Homo sapiens: one gene and its partners. The protein of the gene in region 1 purifies or fractionates together with the protein of each later gene. This does not show direct contact. Each region holds a gene or a part of one and is shown in the gene's direction. Other genes may lie near its edges. The genes, in order: MAPK8IP3, WDR54, ACTR10 and RCCD1.

Region 1 (5,676 bases):
CTGGAGTGGGCGTTTCCACTCGGGCGCCACTCCCTTTTACTAGCAAGCTAAGTAAAAGCCCTGCCACACAGCAGCTGCCTTCTCGGGGTGTCCTGTGGACACGGGAATGTGGCAGTGGACGGTGGGAGGGGCAGCACCCAGTCAAGTGAGGCCCTGGGCCCTGTTTCTGGGAGGAAGCTCGCGGCAGCCTCGGCCTCTTCTCCCTACCTACTCAGGACCCCACGCTTACCTGGTTAGAGGGTGACGGGTGGGCACGGCCTGCAGCTTGAAGCATCACTCGGAGACCACAGGAAAACATTTCCTCATGCTGAATGTGAAACCTCCAGTTGGGCCGAAGGGGCTATGGGGGTGTGGGTGAGGAGCTTCGTGTCACCCCTGTGGGCAGTAGCCTTGGTGATGTTCTGGGCCAGCCCCAACACTGGGAGGACGAAGGGGTGCCGAGGGCTCTGCCAGGTCTCTGGTGTGAAACCACAGGGCCGTCTGGGGTCCTGAGGGTCTGCCACAGGATCACAGGTTGTTTGCTCCCAGAACCAGAGTCTTACTACTCAGCTCCCCTTGGCCCAGGGGCCTACCCAACAGAGCAGGCTTGCTGGAGTCCCAGACCTCCAGGCAGAGGGTCGTGGGTGGGCTGTGGGTGGAGCATGTGTGGAAGCTGGGTCTGCTGGGAAAGTGGAAGGCCAGCCCCGGCTTCCTCTGCCCCTGTGTAAGTGCTGGGCACGCCCTTGCAGTAGTGGGTTCCCCCGCACAGGCTGACGGGCCGTCCCTCTCCCCAGCGGCCAGCGACAGCGACTACCCTCCCGGGGAGATGTTCCTGGACAGCGACGTGAACCCAGAGGACCCGGGCGCAGATGGCGTGCTGGCCGGTATCACCCTGGTGGGCTGTGCCACCCGCTGCAACGTGCCGCGGAGCAACTGCTCCTCCCGAGGGGACACCCCAGTGCTAGACAAGGGGCAGGGTGAGTCCTGGGCGAGTTTCCCCCATCCCCTCATTCCCACGTTTCTGCCCAGCCCAAGCTCACCTCTCCTAACACAGGGGAGGTGGCCACCATCGCCAACGGGAAGGTCAACCCGTCCCAGTCCACAGAGGAGGCCACAGAGGCCACGGAGGTGCCAGACCCTGGGCCCAGCGAGCCAGAGACAGCCACATTGCGGCCCGGGCCTCTCACAGAGCACGTCTTCACTGACCCAGCCCCGACCCCGTCCTCTGGCCCCCAGCCTGGCAGGTGAGCTCTTGGGCTGGGGCAGGAGCAGAGGGAAGGCTTGCAGAGGTGGGAAGGGCCTCGGGGTCTTGGGGCAGGTGCGTGCTCCGTGGCCCCCCCTGGAGCCACCGTTCTTCCTGCAGCGAGAACGGGCCAGAGCCTGACAGCAGCAGCACACGGCCAGAGCCAGAGCCCAGCGGGGACCCCACGGGAGCAGGCAGCAGTGCTGCACCCACCATGTGGCTGGGAGCCCAGAACGGCTGGTAGGAAGGGCCCGGGGCAAGGTGGAGGGAGGGTCCTGGGTGAGCCCCTCGCCCATCGCCGCTTCCTTCCCTAGGCTCTATGTGCACTCGGCTGTGGCCAACTGGAAGAAGTGCCTGCACTCCATCAAGCTGAAGGATTCTGTGCTGAGCCTGGTGTGGGTGACCCCAGACCGAGGGCCGGGCGGCGCGGGGGAACGGGGCGGAGGGGGCTGGCACAGCCTGGCCCAAACCAGGCTCACCGCATTCCTGTTTCAGGCATGTCAAAGGCCGTGTGCTGGTGGCTCTGGCGGACGGGACCCTGGCCATCTTCCACCGTGGTGAAGGTGGGGCCTGGCAGCACGGGGTGTGTGGGTGGCAGCTGATGGCCCTGGCATTGTTTAGCCAAGGGGCTCCCGGGGTTCCAGGCCTCTCCTTAGTCTGGCAGTGGGTGTCTCAACCCGATGCCCTGAGCAGAGGTGGGGCCTGGCCAGGCCTGAGCAGGTGTCCGGGGCTCCCTCCAGATGGCCAGTGGGATCTGAGCAACTATCACCTAATGGACCTGGGCCACCCGCACCACTCCATCCGCTGCATGGCTGTTGTGTACGACCGCGTGTGGTGTGGCTACAAGAACAAGGTGCACGTCATCCAGCCCAAGACCATGCAGATAGAGGCGAGTGCCGGCCAGGGCCCCGGGGAGGGGAAGAGGCTCCTGCTGGCCAGCAGCTCTCCCGCATCTTCCATACGGAAGTCCACGAGGCCCTACGTGGGTCCCATCTCCCCTGTACCACCTATGACTCAGGCTCGAACAGGCGCAAAGCAGGCGCTGGCTGGGAGGTCTGAGGGGACTGCAGGTGGCCCTGGAGCTGTGGCAGGTTTGGGGCTCCCCACTTCCTCTCCTCTCCCCAGCCCTGTTGATGGGCAGCCATGACTCCACAGAAGTCATTTGACGCCCACCCGCGGCGGGAGAGCCAGGTGCGGCAGCTGGCGTGGATCGGCGATGGCGTATGGGTGTCCATCCGCCTGGACTCCACCCTGAGGCTCTACCATGCACACACGCACCAGCATCTACAGGACGTGGACATTGAGCCCTACGTCAGCAAGATGCTAGGTGAGGGGCCACGCCAGATGGGGTGGTGGGGTGCTCAAGGCCAGCCACCCTGACCGCTCTCCCCCACAGGCACTGGCAAGCTGGGTTTCTCCTTCGTACGCATCACGGCCCTGCTTGTCGCGGGCAGCCGGCTCTGGGTGGGCACCGGCAACGGAGTGGTCATCTCCATCCCCCTGACAGAGAGTGAGTGGCCTGCACACCTGCAGGGGCAGTGGTGCTGCCAGAGGTGTACGTGGGTTCACGGGGTGGCTCTGCAGGGCCACCTTGGAGGGTGCCTTGCTGCCCCTACGCTGACCGCTCTCCTCTTCTCCCATGCTCCTCCCATGTCCCCAGCTGTGGTCCTGCACCGAGGCCAGCTCCTGGGGCTCCGAGGTAAGCCCAGCCACCTCGTGTCCCCTCACGGGAGCCTCTCCCACTCTCCACCTGTATGCGGGCTCAGCGCCTCTGGGTTCTCTCCCTGCAGCCAATAAGACATCCCCCACCTCTGGGGAGGGCGCCCGTCCCGGGGGCATCATCCACGTGTATGGCGATGACAGCAGTGACAGGGCGGCCAGCAGCTTCATCCCCTACTGCTCCATGGCCCAGGCCCAGCTATGCTTCCATGGGCACCGCGATGCCGTGAAGTTCTTTGTCTCGGTGCCAGGTGAGGCTGGGCCCCTCCTGCCATCCACATCCCCTGCATGCCAGTGGCCGCCGCCTCCCCCAGGAGGCCGCTGTCCTGAATCGCTTCTGCCATCCCAGGGAACGTGCTGGCCACCCTGAATGGGAGTGTGCTGGACAGCCCAGCCGAGGGCCCTGGGCCAGCTGCCCCTGCCTCGGAGGTCGAGGGCCAGAAGCTGCGGAACGTGCTGGTGCTGAGCGGCGGGGAGGGCTACATCGACTTCCGCATTGGTGAGCGGGGCCCAGGGACAGGGCTGAGGTTGGGCGCGGGGGGAGCCTGGCCGTCACTCTGCTGCTTTGCCCGCAGGAGACGGAGAGGACGACGAGACGGAGGAGGGCGCAGGGGACATGAGCCAGGTGAAGCCCGTGCTGTCCAAGGCAGAGCGCAGTCACATCATCGTGTGGCAGGTGTCCTACACCCCCGAGTGAAGCTGCTGCCCTGCCTGGCCCGACCTGTACATAGGACCCCCGACCACCTGACCCCCGCCCGGCCCGCGGGGTAGCCAGCCAGGCGCCGCCGCCCCTCTTCTAACCTCTCAACCTGCAGCTTTCACCTGAGTCTGGCCCCTCCAGCGGGCAGGGAGTGCGGGGATGCGGATCAGCTGGGAGGAGGAGGGGAGGGGAACTTCCACCCGAGGGGAAGATGCTCTCGGGACAGTTTCCCGGGCAGCTCCTGGCCAGCTTCCAGCCCAGAGTCCTCAAGTCCAGGGCACCTTGGGCCCAGCGCAGGCAGAATCCGAGGTGGTCCTGGCTCTACCCTGGGCCTCCTACTCCCCAGCACCCCTGGAGGAGGCAGGGGCTCCCCGCCGCCGAGGCTGCCTGCCCTGGGCCCACCTCTGCATGCTGCTCATGGGGCCACCCTGCCTCCTGGGCCCTCACTCTGCCTAGGGGAGCTGGGCCAGGCACTAGCCTTTGCCCAGGGAGGTGGGCCTCAGGCTGCCCAGGTGCCTGCACCCCAGCCGGCCTTCTCTGGGGCCTCCCCGTCGTCAAGCCTCTATCCTGTCTGTCCCCACCCCAGCTGTCCCCTGCCCAGGGAGCTGGCATAAAAGCACGAGGCCCGGCTCCCTGGGGCAGCTGCTTGAGAACAGAGACTGCTACCCCATCCTGCCCATGCAGGCAGGCTCTTGCCAGCCCCGTTCTGACCCGTGTCCCCCCAGGCTCTGCCTGGGCAGAAGACTCACCTTGGAGGAGTGGGCCCTGGAGTCCTGTCCCTCCCAGAAGCCCCCAGGGTGGGATTTCTCAGGCTGCCAGGGCAGGCCCAGGCCTCAGGAAGAAGGGGAGGCCCCTGGCCTCTCCGGGATCAGTCCTAGGACACAGGCTCAGCCTCAGGTTGATGGGGGATGATGTGCTCCCGGGGCCTGCCTCCTGCACGGGGCTCCACGGAGCCCAGCTCCCAGACACGCTACTAAGTGCCTAGGGTTGCCCGCTGTGGCCTGCTTCCAGGGAGCAACAGAGAGGCCACCAAGCAGAGGCCCGTGGGGCTGAGGATGGAGCCGCCCCCAGCCGACTCCAAGCCCGCAGAGGGCAGACGCCACCCTGGACTGCTCTCCCTGCCCAGCTGGGCCTCTCTGGCCTATTCCTACCTTCCAGGCCCACTGCACTCCTGTCTGGGAGGCCCTTATGAGGGCAGCCCAGCCCCCGCACCCACCCCCAACCAGAGAAGCACAGATCTTGGGGAGCTGCCCCACAAGCCCCGCTGGCCACCGAGGGCTGCAGCCGCTGCGCTGCCGGCTTCTCCCCACCACCCTGCCACCTCCACTGTGATGTATGTCCGCTCCCTCGTCTGTTCCCCCAGGATCTCGAAGTGACTCCGGGCTGAGCAGTGGGGCGGCTGGGGGAGGGGTGACGATTCTCCTCAGGCTTTGGCCCTGCAAGCAAACCCACATATCTGCTCTGTATGTAATAAATGTCTTAACGTCGTAGCTGCCTGTTCCTGGGCCCAAATCGAAACGAAAACGAGGACTTTATTATAAAAAAACGTTGGACCACGTTGGGCTGGGCACCAGGACAGTGTCCTGGCACGTTTCCAGGCGAGCCGCGCAGGCTCCTGGAGCAGCTCCTCGGGCAGGAAACCCTGTACGCCAGGGATTGGAGAGGCCTGCGCCACCCTCCATGCAACGTCCAGACAGGTGGATGTTCAGCAGCCCGTCCAAAGGGATGCTCCAAGCGCTGTGGGGTGGGGCCAGAAGCCCGCCCACCTGGGCCCTGGAGGAGGCTGGAGTGTGAGAGCCTCTGTGACGCGCATCTGCCGGGCTACTCATACAGCCAGTGCCCAGCGCTGTCCTCCCAGCAGAGGAGCTCGTCTGCGCGGAACCAGAGAGCGATCTCGCGGCGGGCACTCTCCACCGAGTCGCTGCCGTGAATCAGGTTCCTGCGCGGAAGAGGCGCGTGTGAGCGTGGGAAAGAGACCTCCGGCACGGGTACCACGCAGGCTGAACAGGGGGAGGCCGGACGGGGCTGGGACCGT
Region 2 (7,793 bases), on another chromosome or scaffold:
GCCCCTACATGCTTTATGGTGGATTTGGGCCCCCTTGCTCTCTCTGCTGCAGCATCCTAGGGGAGTAGTCAGTCACCCAGCCTGCCATGCCCCAGCCCCTCTTCTCCACGAAGAGTAACCTGGGGGAGGGGATCATGGGCAGAACAGGAGGCAATGTGGATGAACATTTGGCGCTGCTAGCAGCAGCAATGACAGATGTCAAAGAATGGAACATTGAACCAAAAACAAAACAACTGTCCAGAGGTAGTTTGTGAACAAAGGAAAAATGGAACCAGAACCTGGGGGGGTGGCAGGAGCAGGAGGGCTGGGAGTGGGAAGGGTGAGCTCCTTGTTATTGGTGCCCCATCTGAGGAGAGGAAAATGGCCAAGTGGTAGAAGCAAAGTAGGGTTGGGGGAGCAGCCCCAGCCCACCTCAGGTAGCTGCCACAGGGCTCATGGGCCTCACCTGGACAATAGGTGACTGCATCTCCATCACTGCAATATGTACTCAGATCCCAGGCAGACGGTAAGGGGGCTGGGGCCACTGCAAAGAGGGAGTAGGGGACTCACACCCCTCCCGCTTTCCTGTAGCCAATGGGGGCTGTCCAACCTAGTGCAGGGACTAGGGAAGGTGGGGAAGGATGAAAGGTGTGAGCCTCACGTGGTGACAAAGACAGTTTGGCTGGGGGAATCCTGGGGGCCAGCACCCCCCTCCATTGGCCACACCTGCTGCTGCCAGGACAGTGGAGTGGGGTGTGCCAGAATGGGGGCTTGGGCCCCTTTTAAGACCAGGGGAACCCTCCCAGGCCCCTCTATGGGAAGCCAGAGGCAACAGTGGAGGAGCAGAGAAGTGGCTCCCAAACCAAAAGCCCAGAGAGCAATGTCACCACCAAGGGATCAGGGACGCAGCAGGTGCAGGGTGCGGCTAAGCAGGACATTAGCCTTGTCCAGGAGGGCACATGTGTATGAGTGGGTGGACGGGGGGAGGAGGGGGTAGGGATGGGAAGAGGCCAGGGGAAAAGTCCTCTCCACTCAGCCCATAGGGACCTGCAGCGGCTGGTGTGTTGTGTAGTGTGGTGGTGAAGGTGCAGGTGGAAGATGAGGGTGGTGGCTGGAGGCGGTGGTGATGGTGGGTGTAGGGAAGGGGTGGGGGGTGGGAGGTGGGGGGTTGGGAGCAGATCAAAGCTGTCCAGTCCCAGAAGGAAGCTGCTCCTCCAGTGAGGACTCCTGCGAGATGCCCTTCTCTTCCTCCTTCTCCAGTTTTTTGGGTCTTCCCCTTGGTTTCCTTCCCAGAGTTGTGGTGGTTTTCCCGGTCTTGGCAGCACCCTTGTTTTTGCTTCCCTTTGGTCGGCCCCGAGGTCTCTTAGGTGTTGGCACTTCGCTGAGCTCCTTCTGACTCCCTACCAGCGCTGTCCTGGGACTCACCGGAGGCTGCTTGCGCGGCCTGCCACGGCCCCGCTTCTCAGTGCCGTCCTTTTTCTGCTTGGAGGCCAAGGGCTGGCTGGACTTCGAGCTCGACTCGCTCATCTTCCCTTCTCTAAGGACTAGTTGGAAAAGTGATGGCTGGGATGGGCGAACTCGGCCGCTGGCCTGCGGTGCATGCTCCGGTTTGCCGGGAGCAGCGGTGCTGGGCGCTGAGGACAGGCCAGTCTCCACCGCAGCCGCCCCTGGTCGCAAATGCGGATGCCTTCCTGGAGCCGCGCCAGCGCCAGAAATAGCCCAGGCTCGGAGTCCCACTTAGAAGAGCACAGCCCCGGCTCAGGGGAGCTTAAAAAGTTCTCTACATTTTTTTTTTTTAACCAACTATTCTTATCTCCATTTTATGGTAATTTACCCAGTATCATACAAGTAGGATGTAGTGAAGTCAGAATGCATTCACATGCAAGTCTGTCTGACTCCAGAGCCTCTCAAAGACATTTGCAACAAATATGAAAAAAGATAAATATCCCCGAGTAAATTAAAAGCTCATATAAAAAAAAAAATGGCCGGGCGCAGTGGCTCACGCCTGTAATCCCAGCACTTTGGGAGGCCGAGGTGGGTGGATCATTTGAGGTCAGGAGTTCGAGACCAGCCTAGCCAACATGGTGAAACCCCGTCTCTACTAATAATACAAAAATTAGCCAGGCATGGTGGTGGGCGCCTGTAATTCCAGCTACTAGGGAGGCTGAGGCACGAGAATCACTTGAACCCGGGAGGCAGAGTTTGCAGTGAGCTGAGATCATGCTACTGAACTCCAGCCTGGGTGACAGAGCGAGACTCTGTCTCAAAAAAGAAAAAAAAAACTAATAAAATAAAAAATAGAAGAAGAAAAATGGCCAGGCACAGTGGCGCACACCCACAGTACCAGCTGCTCGGGAGGCTGAGGCAGGGGGATTGCTTGAGCCCAGGAGTTCAAGTCCAGCTTGGGCTATATTGCAATAAAAATTTAAACTATAAGAAGAAAAACCATTTAAGATCCCAAAGATAAGCAAAGGACATGACATTTCACAAGAGAGGGACTGTAGATGACTAATAAATATAGTATTGACATTCTGATTTCTAGTTCATCAAATTGGAATTATTTTAAAAACAAGAATACTCAGCATTGGCAAAGGTTTAGTGTGATACCATGCTGCAACAGTATGCATGAAGACATTAAAAAATGTTTTCACTTCCTCAACCCTGCAATTTCAGTTCTATAAATACAACCAAAAGGCATTTTCTGAAATGAAGATAAAAATATATTCTCCAACAAATTCTCTGCGGTATTTTTATAATAGCAGAATATTGAAAACATGTCTTTAAAAAGAGAATAAATAATTGACATGCTATATATACTGAAATATTATGCAATGATTAAAGGTAATCTTTTTTTGTTTGTTTGTTTTTGTTTTTGAGACGGAATCTCGCTCTGTCACCCAGGCTGGAGTGCAGTGGCAAGATCTCGGCTCACTGCAACCTCTGCCTCCCAGGTTCAAGCAATTCTCCTGCCTCAGCCTCCGGAGTAGCTGGGATTACAGGCGCCTGCCACCAGGCCTGGCTAATTTTTTTTCTATTTTTAGTAGAGATGGGGTTTCGCCATGTTGGCCAGACTGGTCTTGAACTGGCCTCAAGTGATCTGCCCACCTTGCAGGCATGAGCCACCAACCCAGCCATTAAAGGTAATCTTTAGAAAGAATTTGCAATGGCATAAAGCAAATGTTTATGATGTAACGTTAATTGAAAGAAGCAGGATACAAACTTACACATCAATTATGATCTCATATATGTAAACCACTATGTGTTCAACAAAAGGAAAACTTCAAAATGATAACAGAGGATACGTTTCCTTCCTATGCTCTTTTCTATTTTGTAAGTTCTCTACAATGAGTTTGTTTCCTTTTGTAATCACTTAAAAAAAAAAAAAGACTAGTCCCCAAAACTCACTTTAGAGACATAAAAAGTTTACAAACAATCTCTTGGGAGCTCCCTCAATTCCCCACAACAGTCTCCCTGAACCTGGTTCCTTCCAAAATGTACTTCCAAATGTGATCTTCCCAAACCTTTGCCTATTGCCCCGCTAAAACCTTGTCTCATATCTGTTTCCTAAAATTCATTATCCCCCCAAATCTGCTGTTTCCTAAGTCTTGCAGAACTCAAAATCCCTGAAGTCTCATTAACCCTATCCACCAGTGAGAACAGCCCTGTAGCAAGCACCAGGAGTGGCCCATAGCCCAGGCCAAGCTTGACTAGAGCAGGGCTGACTGGACTGAGTAAAGAGAGTTGTTTCCTTAGACCTCCCCTCCCAGCCTCGCATCTGACACCCGTGATGGTGACCAGAAGGGACAGAGATATTTTTGCACAAAGGCTCTTCAAATCCGTTTTCTTTCTTCTTCTTCTTTTTTTTTTTTTTTTTTTTTTTTTTTTGAGACAGTCTCTCTCTGTCACCCAGGCTAGAGCGCAGTGGCGCGATCTCGGCTCACTGCAACCTCCGCCTCCCGAGTTCAAGCAATTCTCCTGCCTCTGCCTCCCGAGTAGCTGGGATTACAGGCACCGCGCCACCACATCCAGCTAATTTTTTGTATTTTAGTCGAGACGGGGTCTCGCCATGTTGGCCTGGCTGGTCTTGAACTCCTGAGCTCAGGCAATCCTCCCGCCTCAGCCTCTCAAAGTGCTGGGATTACAGGCATGAGCCATTGAGACCGGCCCCGTTTTCTTTATTTTAAAATTGATTGGCTCTTAAACAATTTGACTTTCAAGTGCAGTCTCTGAATTATTTAATATATTTCTTCCTCTTGAAATTCTCGAAATAGATTTTTTCTGTTATCTTCCCTCTCTAAATGCTCATCCATTTAAATACGCACCACCATGTAAGAGACTTACTACATTCATTAGCTGTTTCAAAATCCACTTCCTGTTCTCGGGCTCTACACCACCCACTGACCCTTTCCCTCATGGCTTGAGTGTAACAAAGCGTTTGAGTGGGCACCGTGCAGGTGTAGGTTTTCTGCCCGAGTACCGACGTGGCTTCCTTGGTCATCTAAACTCCCGCGCGGTGGGCGGGAGCAAGTAGGGGCACTGGGCGGCCCAGAGCCAGCCCACTGTTCCCGACACCGACCTTAACGGCCGACCCTGGCTCTGGCGCATCCCCAGCTGAACTGAAGCTCACCGAGCCTTCGTGCGCCATCGCCAACGCGGTCGCAGCAACGCTGGTGTTTCTGCTGCATCCGGGCCGCGTAAGCCACCTAACAGTCGCCTGGGCAACCACGGGCTCGGGGTCGCTCGCCCCGCCCACAGTTGCCCCGGCAACCGCGCCGCCCGCGGCACGTTCCGGCCGCTCACCCCGCCCAAGGGCCGTGCGTACGTGCGTCGTCTCTATGGTGGCGGCGGATTTGGAGGGACCCTACGAACCAGGAGTCAGGCGAGCCGATCTGGGGCTGCAGGTGTTACCTCTGATCTAGGCCGGGGGCTTCAGGGATCCGAGCCGAGGGAGAAAGCCTTGGGGGCTTCATCACACTTATTTGGCTCGCGGGCTTGGGGCCATCGGGTGGTCCTGTGTCATCCCCATTCCTCCTCTGCGATTCCCCCGTCGCCCCAAAACAGCCCTGGGACTCCCCTGTCTTGCTCCTCGAGACCCTCCCCCATCACCGTCCTCTGGGCACCCCATCCTATGACCCAGTCTCAGGCATCTTCCGAAATGCTCGATGATAGCCGCCCTCGGGCATCTCCGCTGCGTCTGTTTGTAGCGCGCCTGGTGATTCGGCTGCACCCCCACACAGGATGTTCCGCTGGGAGCGCTCCATTCCCCTGCGAGGCTCGGCCGCCGCCCTGTGCAACAACCTCAGTGTGCTGCAGCTGCCGGCTCGCAACCTCACGTATTTTGGCGTGGTTCATGGACCAAGCGCCCAGCTTCTCAGCGCTGCTCCTGAGGGTGTGCCCTTGGCCCAGCGCCAGCTCCACGCTAAGGAGGGTGCTGGAGTGAGTCCCCCACTTATCACTCAGGTGAGGCATGGAGCTGGGAGTGATGTTGCTGAACCCAGTCCTACCCCCAGCCTTTTCTCTCCAAACCTTCAGGAGCAGGCATGTCCTAACCTCAGAATCTCCCCAGGCATGTCCTAACCTCAGAATCTCCCCTCTCCTGCCGGGCGCGGTGGCTCACGCCTGTAATCCCAACACTTTGGGAGGCTGAGACGGGCACTTGAGGCCAGGAGTTCGAGACCAGCCTGGCCAACATGGTGAAACCTCTTCTCTACTAAGAATACAAAAAAAATTAACCGGGTGTGGTGGCGTGCACCTGTAATCCCAGCTACTTGGGTGGCTGAGGCAGGAGAATCGCTTGAACCCAGGAGGCTGAGGTTGCAGTGAGCCGAGATGGCGCCACTGCACTCCAGCCTGGGCCACAGAGCAAGACTCCGTCCCCCAAAAAAAAAAAAAAAACAAACAAACTCATCTTCCCTGCTTTGATTTTCTCCCTACACTGATGCACCTCCCTCCAGGTCCACTGGTGTGTCCTCCCCTTCCGAGTGCTGCTGGTACTCACCTCACATCGAGGAATACAGGTAAGAAGAGGACTCTCCTGCTTGCCCCACCAGAGCCTTCTCAGCTTCCCTGCCAGGCTTCCAGACTTTCCCACTTGCCTCTAAACACTTCCAGACTTTTCACATGCTTGGCCCACTCACTCTTTTTCTATTTCTTATCTTCAATCTTTCCATCTTTTCCAGTTTCCAAGTGCCACCTCCAGTATCTGCCCCTTTACTAGCTGTATGTCCTTACACTATTAACTTCTCACTCTCACTGTTGTCCTCTGAAAAAATTAGGATAAAAATAGTACCTACATCCCAGATTTGTTTTGAGGATTAAATGGGCTAAGGCTAACACGGATATGTGAAGTACTCAGCAGAGGTCAGTTGGGTTATGCCCCCTGGTTCTTGCCCCGGTCTTCCAGATGTACGAGTCCAATGGCTACACCATGGTCTACTGGCATGCACTGGACTCTGGAGATGCCTCCCCAGGTACCTGCAGGACCAAGTGGGGTGGGGGCAGGGAGTGTTTGCTAGGGCTGCAGGAGGGGATATTTCTGATCATTCTCCCCTTTCATATTCAGTACAGGCTGTGTTTGCCCGGGGAATTGCTGCCAGTGGCCACTTCATCTGTGTGGGTGAGGGAGCCAAGTGCAGGGCATGGAGGGGTGCTGGGGCATGTGGGCTGTGGCCAGGAGAATAATGAGGGCCTGAGGAAATTGTGGAAAGTTAGAGGGAAGGGTGGAAGTGGAGTGGAATCAGAGACTCCAGTAAACCATGGAAGGGTTCAGAGGGTCAGGGTGGGATAAGACAAGGCTAGTGAATGAAGGGGCATGGCCGTTGGAGCAGTGAGAGGGGGTTTTGTTACTAAGGTTTCTGGGATGGAGTAAGTGTTGAGTATGGTGGCTGGAGACCCAGGAGGGTCAGGAAGTCATCACTGGAGTACTGGTTCTGGATACAGGAACGTGGTCAGGCCGGGTGCTGGTGTTTGACATCCCAGCAAAGGGTCCCAACATTGTACTGAGCGAGGAGCTGGCTGGGCACCAGATGCCAATCACAGACATTGCCACCGAGCCTGCCCAGGGACAGGTGAGTGGACTTCCCCTACCCATCTGGGAGCCTTCCCCACCCTGGGAGGCAGGGGACCTGGCTTTGAGTCTTGGCTCTGCCACTAAACAGGTGGATGGCTTTGGGCAAATCTACATTTTCCTAGTCTTCAGCAACCAGGTTCAGTGATAAAGCCAGAGATACTTTACATTTATGTAGTATTTTATAGTTAATTAAGACTTTATAATACTGATGTGAAATGAGGAGTTGGAACAAATGGTTTCTAAGATACTTTCCAGCTCTGAAATGTGCAGCTTCCTTCTCTAGGGCAAGTCCCACCTATTCAGGCCCAGCTCCAGTGCCATCCATCCTCTCCAGGAAGCCTTCCCCATATTCTAGCTCCCACTGATGTCTCTTAGCTGAAACCTGAATTGGCACTGCCCTCAAAAGACAACTCTTGTCTCCCCAAGTAATTTGCAAACCTCTTGAGAACAGGGTGTATATTTTCTTATTCATATTCTCCATTGTACCTGGCATAGGGCTAGGCCCATAGGTTGTGTTGGCTGCCTGGTGTTGGGGGTGCAGGGGCCCAGGGTCTAGTCATGACTGTGACTGGTTCACTACGAGACCTCCAGAAGGTCACGACACTGTGGCCTCAGTTTTATCATCCATCCAGTGAGGCAATTATGCACCCCCTCCTAATGTTATTGGGGGATGGGACTCCATGAAGAAATTCAAGGAAAGCAGTTCATGCTTCCCAAGGGAACCCTGGTGGTAGGGGTGGTTTCT
Region 3 (7,897 bases), on another chromosome or scaffold:
GAGTGGATCACCTGAGGTCAGGAGTTTGAGACCAGCCTGGCTAACATGGTGAACCCCGTCTACACTAAAAATACAAAAAATTAGCCAGCCATAGTGGCTCATGTCTGTAATCCCAGCTACTCAGGAGACTGAGGCTGGAGAATCACTTGAACCAGGGAGGCGGAGGTTGAAGTAAGCCAAGATTGTGCCACTGCACTCCAGCCTAGAAGACAGAGGAAGACTCCATCTCAAAAAAAAAAAAAAAAAAAAAAAGAATTAGTAGACAAGAACATTAAAATAATTATATTTATAGTCATACATTCAAGAAGGTAGAGGAAAACACAAGCATGTTTCAGGAAAGACATAGAAGATACAAAGAGTGTCTGGGCGCAGATTACACCTGTAACCCCGGCACTTTGGGAGGCTGAGATGGGTGGATTGCTTGAGCCCAGAAGCTCGAGACCAGCCTAGGCAACATGGCAAAATCCTGTCTCTCCAAAACAAACAAACAAAAAAGAGCTGGGCATGGTGGTATGTGCCTGTAGTCCCAGCTATTTGGGTGGCTGAGGTGGAAAGATCACTTGAGCTCAGGAGGCAGAAGTTGCAATGGGGAGATCACACCACTACACTCCAGCCTGGGTGACAGAGCAAAACTCTGTCTAGAAAAAAAAAAGATACAAAGAAAAAGACCTAAATTGAACTTCTAGAAGTTAAAGATACAATTTTGAGGTGAAAAATACACTGGATGGGATTAATAGCAGATTAAATGCTGCAAAAGAGAAGATCAATAGACATGAAGACAAAACAGTAGAAACTATACAAAAAGAAACACAGAGGAAAAAATATAAGTGAGAAAAAGAAAAAAGAACAAAGAGTCAGTGAGCTACGAGAAAGCTTTAAACCACCTAATAACATATGTACTTGGACTACCCAAAGGAGAAGAGTCAGTATAGAAAAATTACTTGAAGAAACAAAGGTCAAAATATTCCAAATTTGATGAAAACTATAAAACCACAGGTCCAAGTTCACTTAATCCCAAACAAAAGAAACATGAAGAATATAATGTCAAGGCACCTGAAAAGACATTCCCACCAGTGCCACAACAGTTACAAATGCCATGGCAACATCAGGAAGTTACCCTATGTAGTCTAAAAGGGGGAGAAACCCTCAGTTCCAGGAATTGCTCAACCCTTTCCCAGAAAATCCATGAATAATCCACCCCTTGTTTAGCATATAATCAAGAAGTAATGATAAGTATAAGCAGTTAAGCAGCTCACGCTGCTGCTCTGCCTATGAGTAGCCATTCTTTTATTCCTTTACTTTCTTAATAAACTTGTTTTCATTTTACTCTATGGACTTGCCCCGAACTATTTCTTGTGCGAGGTCTAAGAACACTTTTGGGGTCTGGATTGAGACCCCTTTCTAGTAACAATAACACTTAACTCATAAAGTTGCTGTGAGGAATAAATGGGATCATATATAGCAAGGAGAGCTAGCAAATAGAACTCAACAAATATTATCTCTAGCTGTATCTATGGGAGTGGAAGAGATTGGCAAAGGAGAGGGTGTACAATAAGAAAAGAGGTTCAAGAGCAGAACCATGGAGAACAACAACATTTAGGTTGTGTACTGGGTTGAATAGTGTCCTCCCCAAAATTCGTGTGAACAGAAATCTTAGAATGTGACTATATTTGGAATTAGATCCTTTGCAAATGTAATCAAGTTAAGATGAAGTCATACTGGGTTAAGATGGACCCTGAGCCAGTAACTGATATCCTCAGAAGAAGAGGGAGGCCGGGCACAGAGGCTCATGCCTGTAATCCCAGCACTTTGGGAGGCCGAGGCGGGCGGGTCACTTGAAGTCAGGAGTCGAGACCAGCCTGGCCAACATGGCAAAATCCCATCTCTACTAAAAATACAAAAAATTAGCCAGGCATGGTGGCAGGTGCCTGTAATCCCAGCTACTTGGGAGGCTGAGGCAGGAGAATTGCTTGAACCTAGGTGGCAGAGGTTGCAGTGAGCTGAGATCGCGCCACTGCACTCCAGCCTGGGCGACAAGAGTGAAACTCCGTCTCAAAAAAAATAAAAATAAAAATAAACAAGAAGAGGGAAATTTGTTCAGCCGAATACAGAAAAAATAAAAAAGAAAACAATTAAGAAAAAAGGAGGGAAATCTGGACACAGAGACACACACAGAAGGAAAGTGATGTGAAGACACAGGGAGGAGTACATAATGTGAAAAATGCAGACACAGCGAAGAAGGCCAAGTGATGACAGAGGCAGAGATTGGAGTTATGTATCTACAAGCAAAGGCACATCAAAGATTGCCAGCAACCACCAGAAGCTAGGAAAAGGCAAGAAAGAAGGCCAGGCACGGTGGCTCATGCCTGTTATCTCAGCACTTTGGGAGGCTTAGGAAGGCGGATCACCGGAGCTCAGTAGTTTAAGACCAGCCTGGGCAACACGGTGAAACCCATCTCTACAAAAGATGTTAAAATTAGCCACGCAAGGTGGCACATGCCTGCAGTCCCAGCTACTTGGGAAGGTGAGGCAGGAGAATTGCTTGAGCCCAGTCTGGGGTTCAGTGAGCCAAGGTTGCACCACTGCACTCCAGCCTGGATGACAGAACGAGACTCTGTTAAAAAAAAAAAAAAAAAAAAAAAAAGCTGGGCGCGGTGTAATCCCAGCACTTCGAGAGGCCAAGGCAGGCAGATCACCTGAGGTTAGGAGTTCGAGACCAGCCTGGCCAACATGGTGAAACCCTATCTTTACTAAAAATCCAAAACAAACAAAAAAAAATAGTTGGGCGTGGTGGCAGGTGCCTGTAATCCCGGCTGCTCCAGAGGCTGAGGCAGAAGAATCACTTGAACCTGGTGGGGCGGAGGCTGCAGTGAGCTGAGATCGAACCTGGGTGACAGAGCGAGACTCCATCTCAAAAAAAGAAAAAAAAAAAAAGACAAGAAAGGATCCTCCTCAAGAGCCTTCAAAGAGGGCATGACCTTGCTCTTGCTGACACCTTGATTTCTGACTTCTCACCTCCAGAAGTGTGAAAGAATAAATTTTTTGTTTCCTTGAACCACCGTTTGTGGTACTTTGTTACGGCAGTCCCTAGCTAACAAATACAGCTGGTGAGCTGTCATGGAAAACATAGAATAGGTAATAACAAACTTCATCATTTCAATAGTTTCAGAAACATAATTTCAAATTGATCCTTACAAATACCTTGTGAAGCAGCAGAACAGTTTACAGATAAGGAAGTGGACGATCAGAGGTATTAGGGACTTGACAGAAAGTGGCAGAAACAGAATCTGAACTCAAGTAAGGGGTCCTATTCAAATAATCTGACTCTATTAAGCAAAAAATTTAATCTCTTCCCACGTTTCTTAAAGTTTTCTTCCCCGTCACAACTCCAACTTCATTCTCCTGTCTCCAGGAATTTGCTTTCAAGGAGGATCATTGATCAGTAATTTGGACTTAAACATGAATTTTACTAATATCACATTCCAAATTTCTGCATTGTTACAGCCTTAGTTTTTGTTATGGAAATAGCTTATCCCCAACTACCCCGCTAACTCTAGTTACCAACCATTAGAGTAGGGCCTTTTTTTTTTTTTTTTTTTTTTTTGAGAGACAGGCTCTCACTCTTGTTGTTGCCCAGGCTGGAGTGCAGCGGCACAATCCCGACTCACTGCCGCTTTAGACTTCTTGGGCTCAAGGGATCCTCCCGCTTCGGCCTCCCAAAGTGCTGGGATTACAGGTGTGATCCTGCGCTCGGACAGTTGGGACATCTTAATACAGTATAACCTCATCTTAACTTGATTACATCTGCCAAGACTCTATTTCCAAATAGGGTCACATTCTGAGGTTCCCAGTGGACAAGAATTTTGGGGGGGGGGGCATCATTCAACCCAGTACACCAGCTAAATGTTGCTAGTCCTCACCGATTTACCCTTGAACCTCTTTTCTTATTGCACAGCCTCTCCTTTGACAGTCTTTTCCACTCCTATGCATAGATACAGTTAGAGCTAATATTTGCAGGAAAAAAATATTTTCACAGAAAGCTGTGAAGTGACAAAGATGTAAACAGTAATGTAAATGTTAAAAGTAGTGGCAAAAACAGCAATTACTTTTGCACCAACCTAATAGGGGCCTTTGCTTCAATGTTTCTTCTATTAAACCATCCCGACCGCTCCTCTATGGACAGATTCAAGATTCACAGACGCTACTCTAGCTGCTTAATTCTGGAGTAAAATAAAAACTTTCAGAAAGACTACTAACTAAAGTATTGTCTGTACGTATTATTCTCTAAAGCATCATTAGCATAGGCTTTGCAATTAGGAAGTCTGTGGGTTTGTTCCTGGCTCTGCCGTGGGACATTGGGAAAGTTAATCTCTCTGAGCGTCGGTCCCCACAGATAAGAAAACACATATTCTTGTTATTTCTTGAGAAGATTAAATATTAGGCAAAACGCCTAGCACAGAATAGGGTCTCAGCATCTTCTGCCCCCCAAGAGCATGAATCAAAGGTTCGGAATTGCGTCGTCTCTCGGCTGCCCCTTGGCAGCCAGGTCCTCAGTGACCTCTTCACAGTGAGCTGAGACCGAACCTCTTCACAGCCGCGCGTGGGTGCGGCTTTGGGGCGTGGTGGGAGGGAAGGATAGGGAGGCCGGCTCCGCCCCCTCAGGGCGACCGGCGCGCCTGATCGCCGCGGCCTCCGCGCCCCCGCACTCGGATTCGCGCCCGCCAGCGCCTCTTTTCCCCTAGTCCTGGCGACGGCAGCACCTGCAAGGGTGGGTCCAACGCGGAATGAGGCACAGCCTGGGACAGCCCGGGCCCGGCGCGCCGCGGCCGCGCGAGGCCCCCGCCGTCGCCGACGCCCGAGCGCCGGAGCCCCGGCCCCGCCCCGCGAGCGCCGAGACTTGTTGGCCGCGGAGACTGCGACCCTCTTCTCTCAGTCTGCCTTACTACCATGCCGCTCTACGAGGGCCTGGGGAGCGGCGGGGAGAAGACGGCGGTCGTGATCGACCTGGGAGAGGCCTTTACCAAGTGAGTGGCCGTGACGCCAGCTGTGTTCGACCCGAGGGGAGGGCGGGTGGCAGAGCCCCAGGCACTGCCTGGGTCCTCATCGCCGACTCGCTGGGCAGCTCCGGGCCTCCCCTTTTCTTCAACCAGCGCCCTTGCAAATAACAGCTCTTATTATTTCCTCCCTGGGCGATGCGAATCCGAGGATCGGGGTCTGACTCCCAGAGAGGCCCAGAAAGCTTCTGTTGAATTGCCCTCGTCGCCGCCCCTTGTCATCACCCCAAACCCAACAAACCCTTTGGGATCATCTGTGTAGGGGATGACAACCGTGACCTAGACCCCGCTTACCCTGGGCTCCTCAGTTGAGGAAGGCAGCCAACCGAATGTAAATGCTCGATGACGAATTTCATCATAAAATATTGAACGGAGTTTATTTTGGTGCTGAAAATGGAAAGATGTTTAAGACAGGGCTATCGCTGCTCAAGAATTAGGGAGACTGGGCACATTAAGAGGTGAAACCCTATAGATAAGATTCTGGAAATCCTTTGTTGGCTCCCCTAAACTCGAAGGTTAGATTTGACATGTTTTAAACAAACCAACTTGTAAACAATAGAGAGGAGGTTCTCAACCTTTCGGATGGCATAGATCTCTTTAATGGCTGGATGAAAACCACAAATGCACAAATCTTAAGGTACTTATACACAGTTTCAGGGAATTGGCAGACAATCAATGTGGTCCTGGGACCCTAGATTAAGAGTCCTTGTGATGGGCTCAACAGAGAGGGAAGTAACAGGCAATTACATCATATATGTATTTATGAAAATGAAACATTTGAAAAATCTTTTTATATCTCTAGGCACTTCCTGACGTGTAGTAGGTATTTAATAACTATTTATTGACTAAGTGGTTAAAAGAGCCTATTTAAAAATTGGACCCCAGGAACTCCAGAATTGGATTAAACATAGTCCTTGGTTAATGACATTCTCTTATTGTTCTATGCGAGGCCCTTCCTTATTTATATTTTCTTATTAAAATTATTTTGAAAGCGTAATAAACAGTTCGAGGCTTCTAGTCAAAGATAATTATTTTGGCTGTACTTGGAAGAAATAAGCAAAAAGCTATATTTGAAAAAGACAGCAGGAGGATGATAAGATAAATGTATGAAGTAAAAAAAAGGAATTGAAGTCTAATGGCTTGCATTCTGAGATGTTTGAGGAGCACTGATGCAAGTAAACATGGAGACGGGAATAGGAGGAGATGGAGAGAATTATTTGGGAATACGAGGAGAGCAGTATCAAAAACTAGACAGGACAAGAAGACAGGATGTTAAGACTAAACTAGTATGATGATCATTTTTAGCAACGTTTTTAGCAAATTTTTGTTTTACTAACATGAAACAAAAATGGAAATACCTAAATACTCAAGAAAAGAGCATCGTTTTTAAAATAATGAAATATGTGGTTTTAAAAATAATACTGTAATTCCAGCAGTTTGGAAAGCTGAGGCGGGCTGACCACTTGAGCCCAGTAGTTCAAGACCAGCCTGGGCAACATGGGGAAACCCAGCTCTACACAAAATACAAAATTTAGCCGGCGGTAGTGTCGTGCCCGAAATCCTAGCACTTTGGGAGGCCAAGGGGGGAGGATCGCTTGAGCCTGGGAAGCGGAGGCTGCAGTGATCTGAGTTTGTGCCACTGCACTCCAGCCTGGGCGACAGAGCGAGACCCTGCCTCAAAAAAAAAAAAAAAAAAAGTGATAGCAATGAAGATTATGTTAATATGGGCAGAAGCTTACTGTATGAGTTAATTATGTATGAAGTGTGATTAAAACTATGTCAAATATATATGCATAATCATAAGAAGTAGACTGAAAGTGAATACACCAATATGGAAGCTAACAATATTAGAATGATGGAATTATGAGTGATACAGATGAATTATATGAATGAAGTCACATAATGTAGTACAGATTCAGAGTTGTAGATATGTCTTGCCTAAATTCTGCTAAAATTAACAACTAGGAAAAAAGTTGGCCAGGCGCGGTGGCCCACGCCTGTAATACCAGCACTTTGGGAGGCCGACGCGGGCGGGTCACGAGGTCAGGAGATCGAGACTATCCTGGCTAACACGGTGAAACCTCGTCTCTACTAAAAAAAAAAAAAAAAATTAGCCCTGCGTGGTGGCCGGCACCTGTAGTCCCAGCTACTCAGGAGCCTGAGGCAGGAGAATGGCGTGAACCCGGGAGGCGGAGCTTGCAGTGAGCCGAGATCGCGCCACTGCACTCCAGCCTGGGTGACAGAGCCAGACTCCATCTCAAAAAAAAAAAAGTAAATGCTGCCCTAAAATAATACATTTGTTTTTTTCAGCATCACGAATTTCATAGAATTTTTTTCTGTTAATACACAAGCATTAATAAATAGTATTATTAGTTTTGTGGAGTGATTTTTTTTGATCCCTTAAAATACATCAGGTATTTTCAAATGTTATTGTGGCCATTGTTTTGAAACAAATACAGAGAAAATTAGTTTCTGTGACAAATATTTAAAAGAATACTATAAGTTGTTTCAATTTTCCATTTATTTGCAGGTGTGGATTTGCTGGAGAAACTGGTCCAAGATGTATAATTCCTAGTGTGATAAAAAGAGCTGGGATGCCTAAGGTATTTAAAAAAAAATATTAGCAAAATAAATGCCATACTATAAAATGTTTTAAAATATGACTTCAAGTAAGATTGATTAAAACAGTACTAAAGGCCAGCCGTGGTGGCTCACGCCTGTAATCCCAACACTTTGGGTGGCTGAGGCGGGTGGATCACCTGAGATCAGGAGTTTGAGACCAGCCTGGACAACATGGTGAAACCCTGTCTCAACTAAAAATACAAAAATTAGCCGGGAGTGGT
Region 4 (7,852 bases), on another chromosome or scaffold:
GGGAGAGGGAGGAAGGTGAGGGTGGCACGGTCAGGGCTGGGGAGCCCGATGGTCGGGGTCTTACTCCCAGGGATGTCCTGAGCAGTGACGGGCTTGTTCCTACAGGCGCTGATCCCGCTGGCCCTGGAAGGCACGGACGTGGGGCAGACAAAGGCAGCCCAGGCCCTTGCCAAGCTCACCATCACCTCCAACCCGGAGATGACCTTCCCTGGCGAGCGGGTACGTGTCTTCCTGCCCCGGCCTTTCCACTCCCTCTGTCCCTGATGGCCTGTGGGCTGGGCTGTAGCTCCCCTTTGGGACCAGCAGGAAGTTTCAGCTTTGTCAAGGCCTGGGGCAGGGAGGACAGCCTGAGACAGCAGTACTCTCTTGGGGGTGGGCTTCTCCCTGCAGGGTTGGTGGGGCTTGTGGGGGCTGCGGCAAGTACCCCTGACAGGTGGGGTGCACATTGCAGATCTATGAGGTGGTCCGGCCCCTCGTCTCCCTGTTGCACCTCAACTGCTCAGGCCTGCAGAACTTCGAGGCGCTCATGGCCCTAACAAACCTGGCTGGGATCAGCGAGAGGCTCCGGTAAGGTCCCTTGGGATTGCGGGGCCTGGACCAGGCATCGGGATTCGGAATATCCCCCACAGCAGTTTACACATTGGGAAACACTCCTTGGTCATGGGCTTCTGTGAGCCTCACAGTGACTGCTCCGCATCATTAGAGAGGAGGCGACAGGCCAAGAGGCAGCACGGCACGGCAGACTCTAGAGTCAGACTGCCTCGCTTCCCTGATTGCAAATGGGCAACCTCAAGCAAGTTACTTAACTGCTCTGTCTCAGTTTCTCCCTCTGTGAAATGGGATGATTATAGTACCTACCTCATGGCATAGTGATGAGGAGAATAAAATGAGAAAATACACCTAAAAGTACTTACTACATGGGTACCTGGCCCCTAGCATTGTGCCATATCAGTATATTTTAGTTTTTTTTTTTCTTTGAGACGGAGTCTTGCTCTGTCACCCAGCCTAGAGGGCAGTGGCATGATCTCAGCTCACCGCAACCTCTGCCTCCCAGGTTCAAGCGATTCTCCTGCCTCAGCCTCCTGAGTAGCTGGGATTATAGGCACGTGCTACCGCGCCTGGCTAATTTTTGTATTTTTGTAGAGATGGCGCTTTACCATGTTGGTCAGGCTGGTCTAGATCTCCTGACCTCGTGATCCGCCCACCTCAGCCTCCCAAAGTGCTGGGATTACAGGTGTGAGCCACTGCAGCTGGCCAGCATGTTTTAGTTTTATTACTAACTGTGACTTTGAACATATTACTCATTACTTAGCCCGTTTCCTATTCTGCAAAACAGTAGTGATGATGATCACACTTGCACCTTTAGTATAGGGCCATGGTGAGAATTAAGTAAGATGATCCAGGTGCCTGGTCAGGGTAAATACTCAAATGAGGCCGGGCGTGGTGGCTCACACCTGTAATCCTGGCAATTTGGGAGGATGAGGCAGGAGGATCACTGGAGCCCAGAAGTTCAGGCCAGCCTGAGCAGTGTAGCAATACCTCGTCCCTATTTAAAAAAGAAATTAAAGAGAATATCAGGAAGAATAGCTAATGCATGCTGGGCTTAATACCTGGGTGATGGGATGATCTGTGCGGTAAACCACAACGGCACATGGTTACCTGTGTAACAAACCTGCACGTCCTGCACATGTACCCCTGAACTTAACAGTTGGAAAAAAAATTTGCAAGGTGTGGTGGCGTGCACCTGTAGTCCCAGCTACTCGAGAGGCTGAGGCAGGAGGATCACTTGAGCCTGGGGGGGTCAAGGCTACAGCAGTGAGCTGTGATCATGCCACTTTACTCCAGCCTAGGTGACAGAGTGAGATCCTGCCTCAAAAAAACACAGAAACAAAAACCCTCAAATGTTAGGTGTTAGCCTCACCATCACGACCACCCTGGTCTTCTACATCCTAATTTTGAGCATTTCCCACAATCCTATGCTATTTCCTAGGCCTGGTTAGAAGGCTAAGAAGCACTGTAGTTCATACCTGGTGCAAGAGGGTCCTTGGACATTGCCAAGGGAAATCCTCAGCCCAGGACTTGATTGCATGAGGGTGTGGGTGCAGGGGTGGAGCAGATGTAGAAACTCTGATGATGCTGCCGGTGTTAGTCTGTTCTTGCATTGCTGTAAAGGAATACCTGAGACTGGGTAATTTATAAAGAAAAGAGATTTAATTGCTTCCTGGCTCTACAGGCTGTGTAAGCATGGCATTGGCATTTGCTCAGCTTCTGGGGAGGCCTCAGAGAGCTTTTACTCATAGTAGAAGGCAAAGCAGGAGCAGGCACATCACATGGTGAAAGTAGGAGCAAGAGACAGTCGGGGGAGGTGCCACACACTTTTTTTTTTTTTGAAATGGAGTCTCCCTCTGTTGCCCAGGCTGGAGTGCAGTGGCGCAATCTTGGCTCACTGCAACCTTCACCTCCTGGGTTCAATCGCTTCTCCTGCCTCAGCCTCCCTGAGTAGCTGGGACTACAGGCGCGCACCAGCATACCCAGCTAATTTTTTTTTGTCTTTTTAGTAGAGACAAGGTTTCACCATGTTGGCCAGGCTGGTCTCGAACTCTTGACCTCAAGTCATCTGCCTGCCTCGGCCTTCCAGAGTGCTGGGATTACAGGCGTGAGCCTCCACGCCCGGCCGAGATGCCACGCACTTTTAAATAACCAGATCTCACGAGAACTTACTATCACGAGGATAGCACCAAGCCATGAGGGACCCATCCCATGACCCAGTCACCTCCCACCAGGCCCTACCTCCAACATTGGGGATTATAGTTCAACATGAGGGTTAGAAGGGAAAACATCCAAACCGTATCCCTGCTGCTTCCTCCTGTGGCCCTGCAGGCAGAAGATCCTGAAGGAGAAGGCTGTGCCCATGATAGAAGGCTACATGTTTGAGGAGCATGAGATGATCCGCCGGGCAGCCACGGAGTGCATGTGTAACTTGGCCATGAGCAAGGAGGTGAGGGTTGGTCTGGGTGCTCATGACAGGCGGGGATGCAGAGGTACCTGTGCCCTGGCTGGGCTTTACACCCAACTGACTTGGTCCACTCCTCACATCTGGCCACAGGTGCAGGACCTCTTCGAAGCCCAGGGCAATGACCGACTGAAGCTGCTGGTGCTGTACAGTGGAGAGGATGATGAGCTGCTACAGCGGGCAGCTGCCGGGGGCTTGGCCATGCTTACCTCCATGCGGCCCACGCTCTGCAGCCGCATTCCCCAAGTGGTCAGTGCCTCTTCTCAGTGGGGGAGGAGGGACGGACCAGGAACTCCCAGCAGCAGCTGAAGGGGGCAGTCCTAGGGTGTGTGGGTGTGTCCCTTGCCAAGGTTGAGCCTGTTGCCCAGGGGTCATATCTACCCTGTTTTTCTCACAGACCACACACTGGCTGGAGATCCTGCAGGCCCTGCTTCTGAGCTCCAACCAGGAGCTGCAGCACCGGGGTGCTGTGGTGGTGCTGAACATGGTGGAGGCCTCGAGGGAGATTGCCAGCACCCTGATGGAGAGTGAGATGATGGAGATCTTGTCAGTGCTAGCTAAGGGTGACCACAGCCCTGTCACAAGGGCTGCTGCAGCCTGCCTGGACAAAGCAGTGGAATATGGGCTTATCCAACCCAACCAAGATGGAGAGTGAGGGGGTTGTCCCTGGGCCCAAGGCTCATGCACACGCTACCTATTGTGGCACGGAGAGTAAGGACGGAAGCAGCTTTGGCTGGTGGTGGCTGGCATGCCCAATACTCTTGCCCATCCTCGCTTGCTGCCCTAGGATGTCCTCTGTTCTGAGTCAGCGGCCACGTTCAGTCACACAGCCCTGCTTGGCCAGCACTGCCTGCAGCCTCACTCAGAGGGGCCCTTTTTCTGTACTACTGTAGTCAGCTGGGAATGGGGAAGGTGCATCCCAACACAGCCTGTGGATCCTGGGGCATCTGGAAGGGCGCACACATCAGCAGCCTCACCAGCTGTGAGCCTGCTATCAGGCCTGCCCCTCCAATAAAAGTGTGTAGAACTCCACTGTGTGCCCTGTCCTTGGGCAGGGAGGGCTGCTGTGAGTGGGAGTCTCTGAGTGGGTGAGTGTGGGTGAGTATGGGTGTGAGCTGGGCGTGGGTGAGTGTGCAACGGAGCTTCACAGTGGCAGACCCACCTCCATGGAAGGAATCCAATGGATTCCCCAACCAGGGCCCACTGAGTTGCTTCTTAATCCTACTGGAGGGACAAAGGGTAAGCCTAGGAAGCTAATCAATAAGAAACTCACCAGGTGCGGTGCCTCAAGCTTGTAATCCCAGCGCTTTGGGAGGCTGAGGCAGGTGGATCACTTGAAGTCAGGGGTTCGAGACCAGCCTGGGCAACAAGCAAAACTCTTTCTCTATAAAAATACCAAAAAAAAAAAAAAAAAAAAAAAAAGAGCAGAGTGTGGCGGCATGCACCTGTAATCCCAGCTACTCGGTAGGCGAAGGTTGCAGTGAGCCCAGAGCGCAGCCTCCCAAAGTGTCGCCTGGGCGACACAGCGAGACCCTATCTCAAAAAATATTAAACTATCCCAAGAAATAAGTCGTTTAGGGTAGAGACTCCCATATGCTGGGCCTTCAGTACGTTTGTCTTTATATTGGGAGTCCTCTGTGGCCTCCGCTGAGGGCGCTGGGGCGGGGGTTGGGGTTGGTGGCCAGCTGAGCCTGGTTGAAGGGCGGCTTGGGCCCCGCCCACCACCCCAGCACGTTCGAGGAGGGCTAAGCCCAGCGTGAGGCTCGTTGGCTCGACAGAGGCACGTGACGGGTCCTGAGCCAATCCGTGGAAGGTAAAAGCTGCTTCCTGTTGGGGCATGAGTCCGGCGCGTGTCGGGTTTTGAGCTGCCGCGGTCCCGGGACTGAGGTGGGTGGCGGGGTCCGCCCGTCTTGGGCGTCACTCCTCGCCAAACCTTTAGCTCAAGTCTTAATGAATGTCCTCTCTGTGGTTCTAATCCGAGCTCCAGCCCCACGGGTTCCTGCAGGGGCGGGACCACCTGGCCCAACCTCTGCCTTGGTCCAACGCCCCCGGTTTCCTCCAGGGCCTTGGTCCAACGCCCCTCGGAGGTTTCAGCCCATTTCACAGACCGGGCCGCAGGGCCCCGGCGTAGGCCTCGGGACCGGAGAGGCCCTCAAGGGGAGTTGAACAGGGCTGCGGCCGCCGCGCCCCGGGCGGCGACGTCACCGCCCTTGCTGGTGATTGGCCGCCTCGCGCCGCGCGCCCTTCAAACCTTTTCTCCCCGTGGCTGTCGGCGCCCGCTGGGCGGGAGGCCTTTCCGGAGGCGGCCGCTCTGCGCCTCGGCGTTTCCTCCAAGGCTGCCCACCAGAAGGACCTGCCCGAGAGGGTAGAGGGCATAGGGTCAAGATCAAGGTCAGAGGCCCCCTTGGGTTGGGAGAGGACACGGAAGGGGTTAGGAGCCCAGGAACTGGGGTCTCAGGAGAGACCCAGGATCTGACTTAAGAGGCCTGAAAATGCCCATGCAATTCTGCTTCAGCCCGGGTGCAGCGGCTCACGCCTGTAATCCCAACGCTTTGGGAGGCCGAGGCGGGCGGATCACTCGAGCCCAGGAATTTGAGACCAGCCTGGGCAGCATAGCGAGACCCCTGTCTCTATTATATTAAAAAAAAAAAAAAACAAACCCGCTCCAGCCGAATCTGCTTGAAGTTGGCGTTGCTGTTGTAACCACCAGACTGTTTGTCTCCCCATTTAACGGTTAGCTCCTTGGGAGCAGACAGCTGTCCTCACTGGCAGAGGAGGAGCGCTCAGTAAATGCTCGCTGGACGAATAAATGGCTAGATAAGGTACAGTTGAAATTCTGTCTGTATAAGTTTCTCAAAACCAGTAAGATGTCCAGGGATAATTTTTTTGTCAACACTAAATACTGGATTCAGTAAGCTAATACTGTGTGTTTATCATGGCATGTACTCGCACCAAACCCTTTATTTGCATTTATTACAATTCTGTGAGGAAGGTTCAAACAGCACCGCCCCCACCTCCCTTTGTAAACTGAAGAAACGCAGTTGGACTCAGGTGGATTGGCTGCGGTCCCAAGGCCCCGCTGAGTTGCAGAGGCACTGCCTCCCAAACGCTCTTCTGCGTTCCGCTGTGGGGAGAGGGGCAGAGCACTGTGTGTGGAGTTGGTGGGACCTGATTTCAGCGCTCTGCCCCTCTCTGTCTGGCTGTATGAGTGTGTAAGGGTTACTTTGTCTCAGAATCTCCTCTGTAAAACGACCATTTTGGTTCCCAAGATTACATGGGATAAAGTGCCAGATGCTGGGAAGCTGCGGGACGGGGTGGGGGTGTCGGGGGCGCTCGGATCCTAGTCCAATGCCTAAAGGACAGGCCACTTCGTACCCACTTTGTGGCACGCTGAGCTTGAGCCAAAAGGGAGGACAGGGAAAGTGCCTCTAAATATTTGAGCATCTTTGTAAATCCGGTAGGGCATTAGTCAGGGCGCCTGCTCAGCGAACCTTCGTGGCACGGACTCTGCCTTTGTGGTCGGGAGAATGATAGTTTCTCCATTTTACAGATAAGGCAGCTCCAGCCCCTGGAAGGCCAGAGACTTGCCAGTGTCCCACTAGCGGGCTCTTCGCAAGAATCCCCCCGGGCCCGCCGCAGCCAGGCGGCGGCCGGCAGAGGGCGCTGCTCGGGCATGGCGGAGGAGCGGCCGGGGGCCTGGTTCGGCTTCGGTTTCTGCGGCTTCGGGCAGGAGCTGGGCTCCGGACGCGGGCGCCAGGTGCACAGCCCCAGTCCGCTGCGGGCGGGCGTCGACATCTGCCGCGTGAGCGCGAGCTGGAGCTACACCGCTTTCGTGACCCGTGAGCACTCCCCGCCCCGTCCCCACTTATTCCAGCCGCGCTCCCCAGTCGCCTCCCCGCACCGCTGTGGCCAGTCCAGTTTGTCTCCCCCGTTCAGGCCGCCAGCCCCACATTCTGGGTTGGTCCCCAATTCGACCCCTTCCCAGGAACACCCCGCTCCCCCCATCCCCGCCGCCTCCATTCTGGCCACCCTGCTCCAATCCGCCCCGCAGGTGGAGGCCGCTTGGAGCTGTCGGGCTCAGCCAGCGGCGCGGCGGGCCGCTGCAAGGACGCGTGGGCCTCGGAGGGGCTCCTCGCGGTGCTGCGCGCCGGGCCGGGGCCGGAGGCGTTACTGCAGGTCTGGGCGGCCGAATCGGCGCTGCGTGGGGAGCCATTGTGGGCCCAGAATGTGGTGCCCGAGGCCGAAGGGGAAGACGATCCGGCCGGTGAGGCCCAGGCTGGGAGGCTACCCCTGCTGCCCTGCGCCCGTGCCTACGTGAGCCCGCGGGCGCCCTTCTACCGGCCTCTGGCTCCGGAGCTGCGGGCACGCCAGCTGGAGCTGGGCGCCGAGCACGCGTTGCTGCTGGACGCTGCTGGCCAGGTGTTCTCCTGGGGCGGGGGCAGGTGAGCGGAGGCGGGGGCAGGTGAGGGCTGCTGATTGGAGAAGCAAGCGGAGCGGGACCCCTTAATGCGACTGTAGCTGACGACGGTCTCCCTTGCTCAGGCATGGACAGCTGGGCCATGGGACCCTGGAGGCAGAGCTGGAGCCACGGCTGTTGGAGGCGTTGCAGGGCCTAGTCATGGCTGAGGTGGCCGCGGGGGGCTGGCATTCTGTGTGTGTGAGTGGTGAGTGACTTAGTGCTTCTCCAGACGAGCTCATGATCTTGTGCAAACCTTCCTCCTCGTTTTCCAGTTTGGGTGGGGGCCTACCCAGGCCTCCTTCCAAATTCATCCATCCATCGCCCAGTCAGTTATGACTCCTAAATGCCTCTCACCCTCGGCCTCCTCTGCCTGCACCATG

Evidence for each region.
Region 2: the proteins of MAPK8IP3 (region 1) and WDR54 purify together in Homo sapiens (affinity purification with mass spectrometry; 2 studies listed by BioGRID and IntAct, with this or other methods). This does not show direct contact.
Region 3: the proteins of MAPK8IP3 (region 1) and ACTR10 purify together in Homo sapiens (affinity purification with mass spectrometry; 2 studies listed by BioGRID and IntAct, with this or other methods). This does not show direct contact.
Region 4: the proteins of MAPK8IP3 (region 1) and RCCD1 purify together in Homo sapiens (co-immunoprecipitation; 3 studies listed by BioGRID and IntAct, with this or other methods). This does not show direct contact.

Annotation. Positions count from the first base shown.
Region 1 is NC_000016.10:1,765,187-1,770,862, forward strand, and holds the end of MAPK8IP3 (C-Jun-amino-terminal kinase-interacting protein 3), read left to right. Parts: intron 1-773; coding exon 774-956; intron 957-1,033; coding exon 1,034-1,223; intron 1,224-1,342; coding exon 1,343-1,462; intron 1,463-1,536; coding exon 1,537-1,617; intron 1,618-1,717; coding exon 1,718-1,785; intron 1,786-1,962; coding exon 1,963-2,111; intron 2,112-2,377; coding exon 2,378-2,549; intron 2,550-2,618; coding exon 2,619-2,732; intron 2,733-2,882; coding exon 2,883-2,921; intron 2,922-3,012; coding exon 3,013-3,192; intron 3,193-3,290; coding exon 3,291-3,440; intron 3,441-3,516; coding exon 3,517-3,638; 3' UTR 3,639-5,165; downstream 5,166-5,676. Other genes in the region: NME3 (nucleoside diphosphate kinase 3), read right to left, coding at 5,463-5,580.
Region 2 is NC_000002.12:74,416,937-74,424,729, forward strand, and holds the start of WDR54 (WD repeat-containing protein 54), read left to right. Parts: upstream 1-4,793; 5' UTR 4,794-4,814; coding exon of another isoform or gene 4,815-4,880; intron 4,881-5,183; exon of another isoform or gene 5,184-5,216; coding exon of another isoform or gene 5,217-5,217; coding exon 5,218-5,439; intron 5,440-5,933; coding exon 5,934-5,996; intron 5,997-6,382; coding exon 6,383-6,449; intron 6,450-6,541; coding exon 6,542-6,595; intron 6,596-6,918; coding exon 6,919-7,046; intron 7,047-7,793. Other genes in the region: uncharacterized protein C2orf81, read right to left, coding at 4,607-4,624. UniProt on the Homo sapiens protein: Plays a role in the adhesion and fusion of the sperm-oocyte membrane through its interactions with IZUMO1 and IZUMO1R/JUNO.
Region 3 is NC_000014.9:58,195,271-58,203,167, forward strand, and holds the start of ACTR10 (actin-related protein 10), read left to right. Parts: upstream 1-4,878; 5' UTR 4,879-4,947; coding exon 4,948-5,024; intron 5,025-7,584; coding exon 7,585-7,657; intron 7,658-7,897. UniProt on the Homo sapiens protein: Part of the dynactin complex that activates the molecular motor dynein for ultra-processive transport along microtubules.
Region 4 is NC_000015.10:90,950,049-90,957,900, forward strand, and holds the start of RCCD1 (RCC1 domain-containing protein 1), read left to right. Parts: upstream 1-4,835; 5' UTR 4,836-4,900; exon of another isoform or gene 4,901-5,835; intron 5,836-6,563; 5' UTR 6,564-6,686; coding exon 6,687-6,852; intron 6,853-7,064; coding exon 7,065-7,455; intron 7,456-7,555; coding exon 7,556-7,677; intron 7,678-7,852. Other genes in the region: UNC45A (protein unc-45 homolog A), read left to right, coding at 106-219, 452-567, 2,881-2,998, 3,107-3,262, 3,411-3,668. UniProt on the Homo sapiens protein: Plays a role in transcriptional repression of satellite repeats, possibly by regulating H3K36 methylation levels in centromeric regions together with KDM8.